Homo sapiens: one gene and its partner. The protein of the gene in region 2 purifies or fractionates together with the protein of the main gene of each other region. This does not show direct contact. Each region holds a gene or a part of one and is shown on either strand. Other genes may lie near its edges.

Region 1 (3,827 bases), on a different chromosome or scaffold from region 2:
ACATATAAGTGACTGACAAACTTTCTAAGAAATAGCAACCTTCCCTTAGAGTGTCTCTGAGGAAAGTAGAAACATGCACGTATGTTCTCACCTAAACAGAGACTCTTTAAAATACAAAGGTGTCCATGTAGATCATTCTACTGCATTGGGCCTCACATTTTAAATTTATGATTTAACATAGAATAAGGATATCAACATCAATAAGACTGTAATATATTATTAGACGATTTGGTAGATTTGAATCATTGTCTTGTATTACGGAAATTCAACTTTAACTTTGGACCTCTTGTTAGAGAAGATGGCTTGTCATTTTTTAGTTATCTAGCCAAGTTTTGTTGTTGTTGTTGTTTGTTTGTTTGTTTTTGAGACAGGGTCTTACTCTGTGACCCAGGCTGGAATATAGTGGCATGATCACGGCTCATTGCAACCTTGACCTCCCAGGCTTACCATAGCCTCCACCTCCCCGGCTCAAGCAATCTTTCCACCTCAACCTCCCAAGTAGCTGAGACTACAGGCATGCACCATCATGCCCAGCTAATTTTTGTATTTTTGGTAGAAATGGGGCTTTGCCATGTTGCCTAGGCTGGTCTCCAACTCCTGGACTCAAGCTATCAGCCTACCTCTGCCTCCCAAAGTGCTATGACTATAGGCATGAGCCACCATGCCCAGCCTAATCAAATTTTATCAAGAATGTTTCTGTTGCTTGCCACATCTGGCTTCATCTTCTACTTCATCATAAACTGAAAATAAAATAATATCTATAATAGTGATTTACATTATTTTTATTTTCACTTTACTTTTAATTCCACAACTCCCAAAATTCCATTCCTACTTTTTTTCTTTCCCTTTCCCCAAAGAGACTATACTAAAGCTAAGATTAAATATGTCTTTTATTTGACTAGCAATTGCTTAGTGTGAACTATATTGTGTTAGACCAGCATATCCAGATATTTTAGAACATTATTGTGCTTATAAGTATATATTTGTGAACCAAATTATAGCATTAAATCATTTATAAAGAACTACACCTCAATTAGAGATTTTTGACAAAAGTGTCACCTTTCTGTGACTTGAAAAATTTGGCTTCCAATGGGATCAAGACCTGTCTTGGGCTGGTCAGTTGTGAAGAGTTTTCTGTGTTAGGGGCTCCTCTCACCACTAAAAACTCATCAGATGCTAAATTAATTGCATACACCATACCCACCTATGTTGTAATTCAATATGCATCACGGGATTCATAATTTACTTCAATGCTTCTTTAATGAATGTGTAGATCACTGCCTCTAATCCTTTGAATAAACTGATGAGAACTTACTCATTTTGGAGCACTCTAATCCTCAGTCCTCTGAGCTCAAAACAAACACATAAAACCCACAGAGTCCTATTTCCAGGGTTATAAACTCATTAAACATTTACTTTGCTAGCCATGGGGGCACTCTGTGAGGTACTTTGTGTTCCTGCTGTGTGTCCTGTAAAACTGATGTTCAAATTTCATAAGAAAGAACAGATGTAAAACATTTCTAACTTAACAGAAATTTGCTTTATTGCAGACACATGGTAAGCTATTAAATATTTTAAATTCACATTTTATTATTTGCAATTTGCATTGTCTGTTTTTCAAATTCAATAATCTGAATCATTAATAAATCTTCAAAAATAATTGCAGGTAACTATTTTTGTTTTATTTTAATATCAGGAATTTGGGAGCTCATTTGAATAGATATGAGATAAATAAGCTGTACTTAAGTGTTCTACGAGTTTATTTCATAGCTACATTACTAAAATTTGAAATGAAAGGCAAAAATGTTTTTTAATAGGAAACACATTAGCAAATGCTGTAACAATGTTTTTTAAACCATTTGAATTGGTTAGATATCTCATTAATTTACATTTTACATTTTAGCATTTAATTTTACATTTAAATTTTAGCAATTTTAAAATGCTCTTGAGTTCACTTTCTTCTAAAAATCAAATAAATTCTATTTTCACATATTTGTTGTGAGAACAATTAAAACTACTCTTGGCAATTTTCAAGTATATAATACCTTGTTATTAACTATAATCACCATGTTGTACAAGAGATCTCTTGAACTTATTTCTCCTAATTAAAATGTTGCATCCTTTGATCATCTTCTAGACCCTTTCTCCACAACTCTGCCCCAGCCCCCAGCAACCACTAGTCTACTCTCTGCTTCTATGAGTTTGACTTTCTTGGATTCCACATATGAGTGACATCACGTGATATTTGTCTTTCTGTGCATGGCTTATTTCACTTAGTATAATGTCCTCCAGATTCTATCTTAATGAAGATGTATATCTTCCAGCATATCAACAATTTAAAAAATCATATGATAAGATTTTAAGAGCTAAAAAGCCATGTGACAAATAATTTTTAAAGTTAAAGAAAAAGTGTAGACAACAACATTACATGACAAAAGACTATAAGTAGATTGCAAAGTTATAATTTGTTATTTCCATAATGATCAAGGATACAATAAATTTTCTACATATATATGAACTCAGTGTAAGACCGTGATTTAAAGAAAGTGATTTGTTTTTAAATTCAACCTCTTAGTTGTAGTTTTTGAAGCATTTTATTTAGATAAATCCAGGCTGAGATGAACACAATGCCTAAAATAATTGTTAAATGATGTAACCTCAGGAGTGCTAATTCATTTTAAAACATAGCTATTTCATTATTTTTACTCTTTATATATAACTGGCTCTACTAATGAGAATTGCTAAATAAATGAATTATACTTATGAATAGGCTATGTTTCATTTATATACCAACTTGCATGCTTTCCACTTGAAATGGCTATTTCAGCCAAATGGTCAAAGACACTGAAGCAAGGGTCATCTTGTCATTCCTCCTGTCCTTTGTCATTTCTGAAGCTGACTCAGTAACCCTATGAGATCACCAATGCACATTAATAATCCTGACCCACCTTCTTCTCAGAGCAGTGTCTGCTTTGGGAAGATAAAAAAGGTAGGCTGCAGTTTTATTAATATGTTTGAAACCTCTTTGCTCCTCTCAAATGTTCTTCCTCAGATAAAGAGGTTACACAATGACCAGGTTTGGATTTGCATCCAAGAAGGTGATGGAGCTTATTTTACTCCTTTGTCAACACAAAAATGAAAGCAAAGCTACTCTTCATATGTGATGAATTCCAGAAACAACTACGTTATCAAAACTCCTTGAAAAAGTTACTTCCCTTCACATAAATGAAGTACATTTATTCTTATTCTCCTAGCATATTTCGCAACATGGCTTACAATATGAATTTCAACAAAACCCAAGAGGATGTGTGTTCCATCTTGGGATGGAAGGTTGAATAATGAGTTTGAACTGATGTTCTGTCCCTAGCAGCGAGAGAGGCAAGAAAAAAATCATAATCCTGGTGAGCAGCAGACAGTGACAAGAAAAAATAAGAAGGAATATCAGAATAAAACCAGAACCTGAAGAGGATGCTCCAGCATAGATACATTGGTACCTCAGTCCCAACCTCTCTCATCAAGGCCATAGGAGCCCTACTGGCACAAACCATCTGCCAAGCAATGGAAATACTCACTCTTTCAAATGGGAGGTGGAAAAATGTGAGTTTACAGGAAAAATCATTTTTTGACCCATTTCCAGAGTGTGCCAAGTTTGAAACCCTAAATGAAACTTCTATAGAAACATCCTTTTTCATAGTGATGAGCTTGTGAATGATTCTAGTATTAGATATTAAGAAATGAACATTTTCATTGAGTTTATCCTACGTATTGAAGCACAATAAGCTTCCATAAAAAATTTTGCAACAAATTTCTTTTTTCAGTTCATGTTT
Region 2 (2,838 bases):
AGACAAGGGTCTCCCTTGAATCTCATTCGCGGACTCAGCACCCCGTTCCTTCACTGACTCCTCACACGCCATGGTTTTTAGTCTTTGGTCACCATGAGGAGTGAAAGGGCTTGGGCTTGAGTGACAGGGCTGGGTCCCCTTGTTGGCCCTTCCTCTTGGTGCTCTCTCCACGGGTGGAAGCATTTTCTCTCTGAACTTTGGTTTCCTCAACTGTAAGAGGAGGCTCCTTGTGCCTCCCTCCCCTGGCCAGTGTGGGGACTCAAGGAGTAGTGACTTGACAGGACTTAGTGTGTAACAGGCCTGAAGAAAGTGCTTCCTGGCCGGGCACGGTGGCTCAGGCCTGTAATCTCAGCACTTTGGGAGGCCGAGGTGGGAGGATCACAAGGTCAGGAGTTCGACACCAGCCTGACCAACATGGTGAAACCCCGTCTGTACTGAAAATACAAAAATTAGCCAGGCGTGGTGGTGGGCATTACAGGTGCGCACCTGTAATGCCAGCTACTAGGGAGGCTGAGGCAGAAGAATTGCTTGAACCTGGAAGGCAGAGGTTGCAGTGAGCCAAGATTGCACCACTGCACTCCAGCCTGGGCGACACAGCGAGACTCTGTCTCAAAAAAAAAAAAAAAAAAAAAAAAAAGTGCTTCCCGCCTCTCACCACCTCCCATCCGTCACTATCAAGGTGGTGCCCCAGTGATGGTTCCAGGAGATGGTATGGAAATGTGACCCAGTGCAGAGACCCCAGCGGTGACCTTGTGGGATTCTTACCCACCCTCGCCACTCAAGCAACCAGAGTGGAACAGACATGAGAAGGACTGAGGGCTGTTTTTAGAAACCCTTCTGGAGGGAGGATTCTCTCTTTATTGATTTGGATAAGGATATTTAGTTGTCAGGCATCATAGCAAGCCGGGGGGACTTTGGAGCGGTCAGACAGGGGGACAGGGCAGAGCTAGCATAACTCAGGCTGTTGGGGCCAGTGGTGGGCATGTTCACAGGGCTGTTGGCAGAGGGCAAGGGGAGGGTGGTCAGCACCATGCCACCCTCATCCAGGAAGCGCTTGTAAGGGACTGGAGCATCATTTCGGAGGTCCTGGAATGCCAGGTAGGCCTGGAATATCTGTGGGCAGAAAAGCGCGTGCTGAAGGCTGACTTGGGCTGGGCAGGTCAGGAGAGGGACTGGGCTGGGGACTGGCCTGGGAAGGAGACAAAAGATACCGGTGTTTGGACTGCTCACTGCCCAGGAGCCCTAGGCCAAAGCACAGGCCCTGATGCTGGGCTGTGGCTGCTCAGAGGAAGCGGCACCTGGAAGGGACCAGTGGAGTCCTGGGGGAACCCCCGACCCCTGACCCCCAGGGGAGCTAAGTGAGAGCAGGAATGTTCTAGCCCTTTCAACCCCACCCTGCAGAGGGTGCCCTCCTAGGGAGGGGTGGTGGAGGGGCTTGTCCTCACCCAGACAAGGATGGAGAAGAAGGTGAAGGCGATGGCTGCCTGGGCACTGCTGCTCCCCAGGAGGAACTCTTTGGGCGGCGAATGCTGCCATTGGTTGGCCAGGAAGCAGAAACCCATGAACCAGACAACTGCCCAGAGAACTGTGGCGTCACAGGGAGAGAAAAGGGGCAGGGGGAAAGCTCACTCAGGCAGGGCTGCTGAGGCATGGGAAGGATGGGGCTGGTGGTCTTGCTGCACGAACTTCCACGAGGTATTGAAAAATACTTTTTTTATTAGCTTCTATGTTGACACATCTCCCACAAGTCATTCCCCAGTCCCTCCTAGCCTTCCCTAAAGTGAGCTGCTGGAGTAGAGTTGCGCTGTCTAATACAGGAGCCGCCGGCCTCATGCAGCGGTTTAAATTTCTATTCATTAACACAGGATTTTAGGCTAGGCGAGGTGGCTAACGCCTGTAATCCCAGCACTTTGGGAAGCTGAGGCAAGTGGATCACTCGAGGCCAGGTGTTCGAGACCAGCCCGGGCAACATGGCGAAACCCCGTCTCTACTGAAAAAACAAAAATTAGCCCAGCACGGTGGCGGGCACCTGTAGTCCCAGCTACTCAGGAGGCTGAGGCAGGAGAATCGCTTGAACCTGGGAGGCGGAGGTTACAGTGAGCTGATATTGCGCCTCTGCACTCCAGCCTGGGCGACAGAGCGCAACTCTGTCTCAAAAAAAAAAAAAAAAAATGTTTCTCAGCTGCACTGGCCACATTTCTTTTTTTGTTGTTGTTGTTATTGAGACAGAGTCTCGCTCTGTTGCCGAGGCTGGGGTGCCATGGCGCAATCTCAGCTCAGTGCAAGCTCTGCCTCCCGGGTTCAAGCGATTCTCCTGCCTCAGCCTCCCGAGTAGCTGGGACTACAGGCACTCGCCTCCCTGCCCAGCTAATTTTTGTATTTTTAGTGGAGACAGGGTTTCGCCATGTTGGCCAGGCTGGTCTCAAACTTCTGGCCTCAAGTTATCCACCTGCCTTGGCCTCCCAAAGTGCTGGGATTCCAGGTGTGAGCCACCGTCCCCGGCCAGCAGCTGCATTTCAAGTGCTTAATAGCCACGGGTGGTCAGTGGCTCCTGCATGAGAAGGCGCAGGGACAGAACATTTCCACCCTCACAGGGAGTTCTCCTGCACAGCACTAGATTCGATGACCTTCTAAGGCTCCCTTGGCCCTAAGTCACTGGGACTGGCCCAGTAGGGAGGAGGAGCGGCAGGGTGGGGAGGAGTTGAGATCAAACAGACTGAGAGGAAGGAGGTCAGGCCCCAAAGAAGGACACACATTTTGTGCTTGCTTATGCCAGGCTCCATCGGGAGTGTTTGGCAGTGGTTAGGAGGCAAGACTTTGGCTGGGCGTGGTGGCTCA

The links.
Region 1: the proteins of SYNGR4 (region 2) and GULP1 purify together in Homo sapiens (affinity purification with mass spectrometry; one large-scale study listed by BioGRID and IntAct). This does not show direct contact.

The regions. Positions count from the first base shown.
Region 1 is NC_000002.12:188,571,186-188,575,012, reverse strand, and holds part of GULP1 (PTB domain-containing engulfment adapter protein 1), read right to left. Parts: intron 1-3,827. UniProt on the Homo sapiens protein: May function as an adapter protein. Required for efficient phagocytosis of apoptotic cells. Modulates cellular glycosphingolipid and cholesterol transport. May play a role in the internalization and endosomal trafficking of various LRP1 ligands, such as PSAP.
Region 2 is NC_000019.10:48,374,360-48,377,197, reverse strand, and holds the end of SYNGR4 (synaptogyrin-4), read right to left. Parts: intron 1,586-2,838; coding exon 1,446-1,585; intron 1,114-1,445; coding exon 880-1,113; 3' UTR 821-879; downstream 1-820.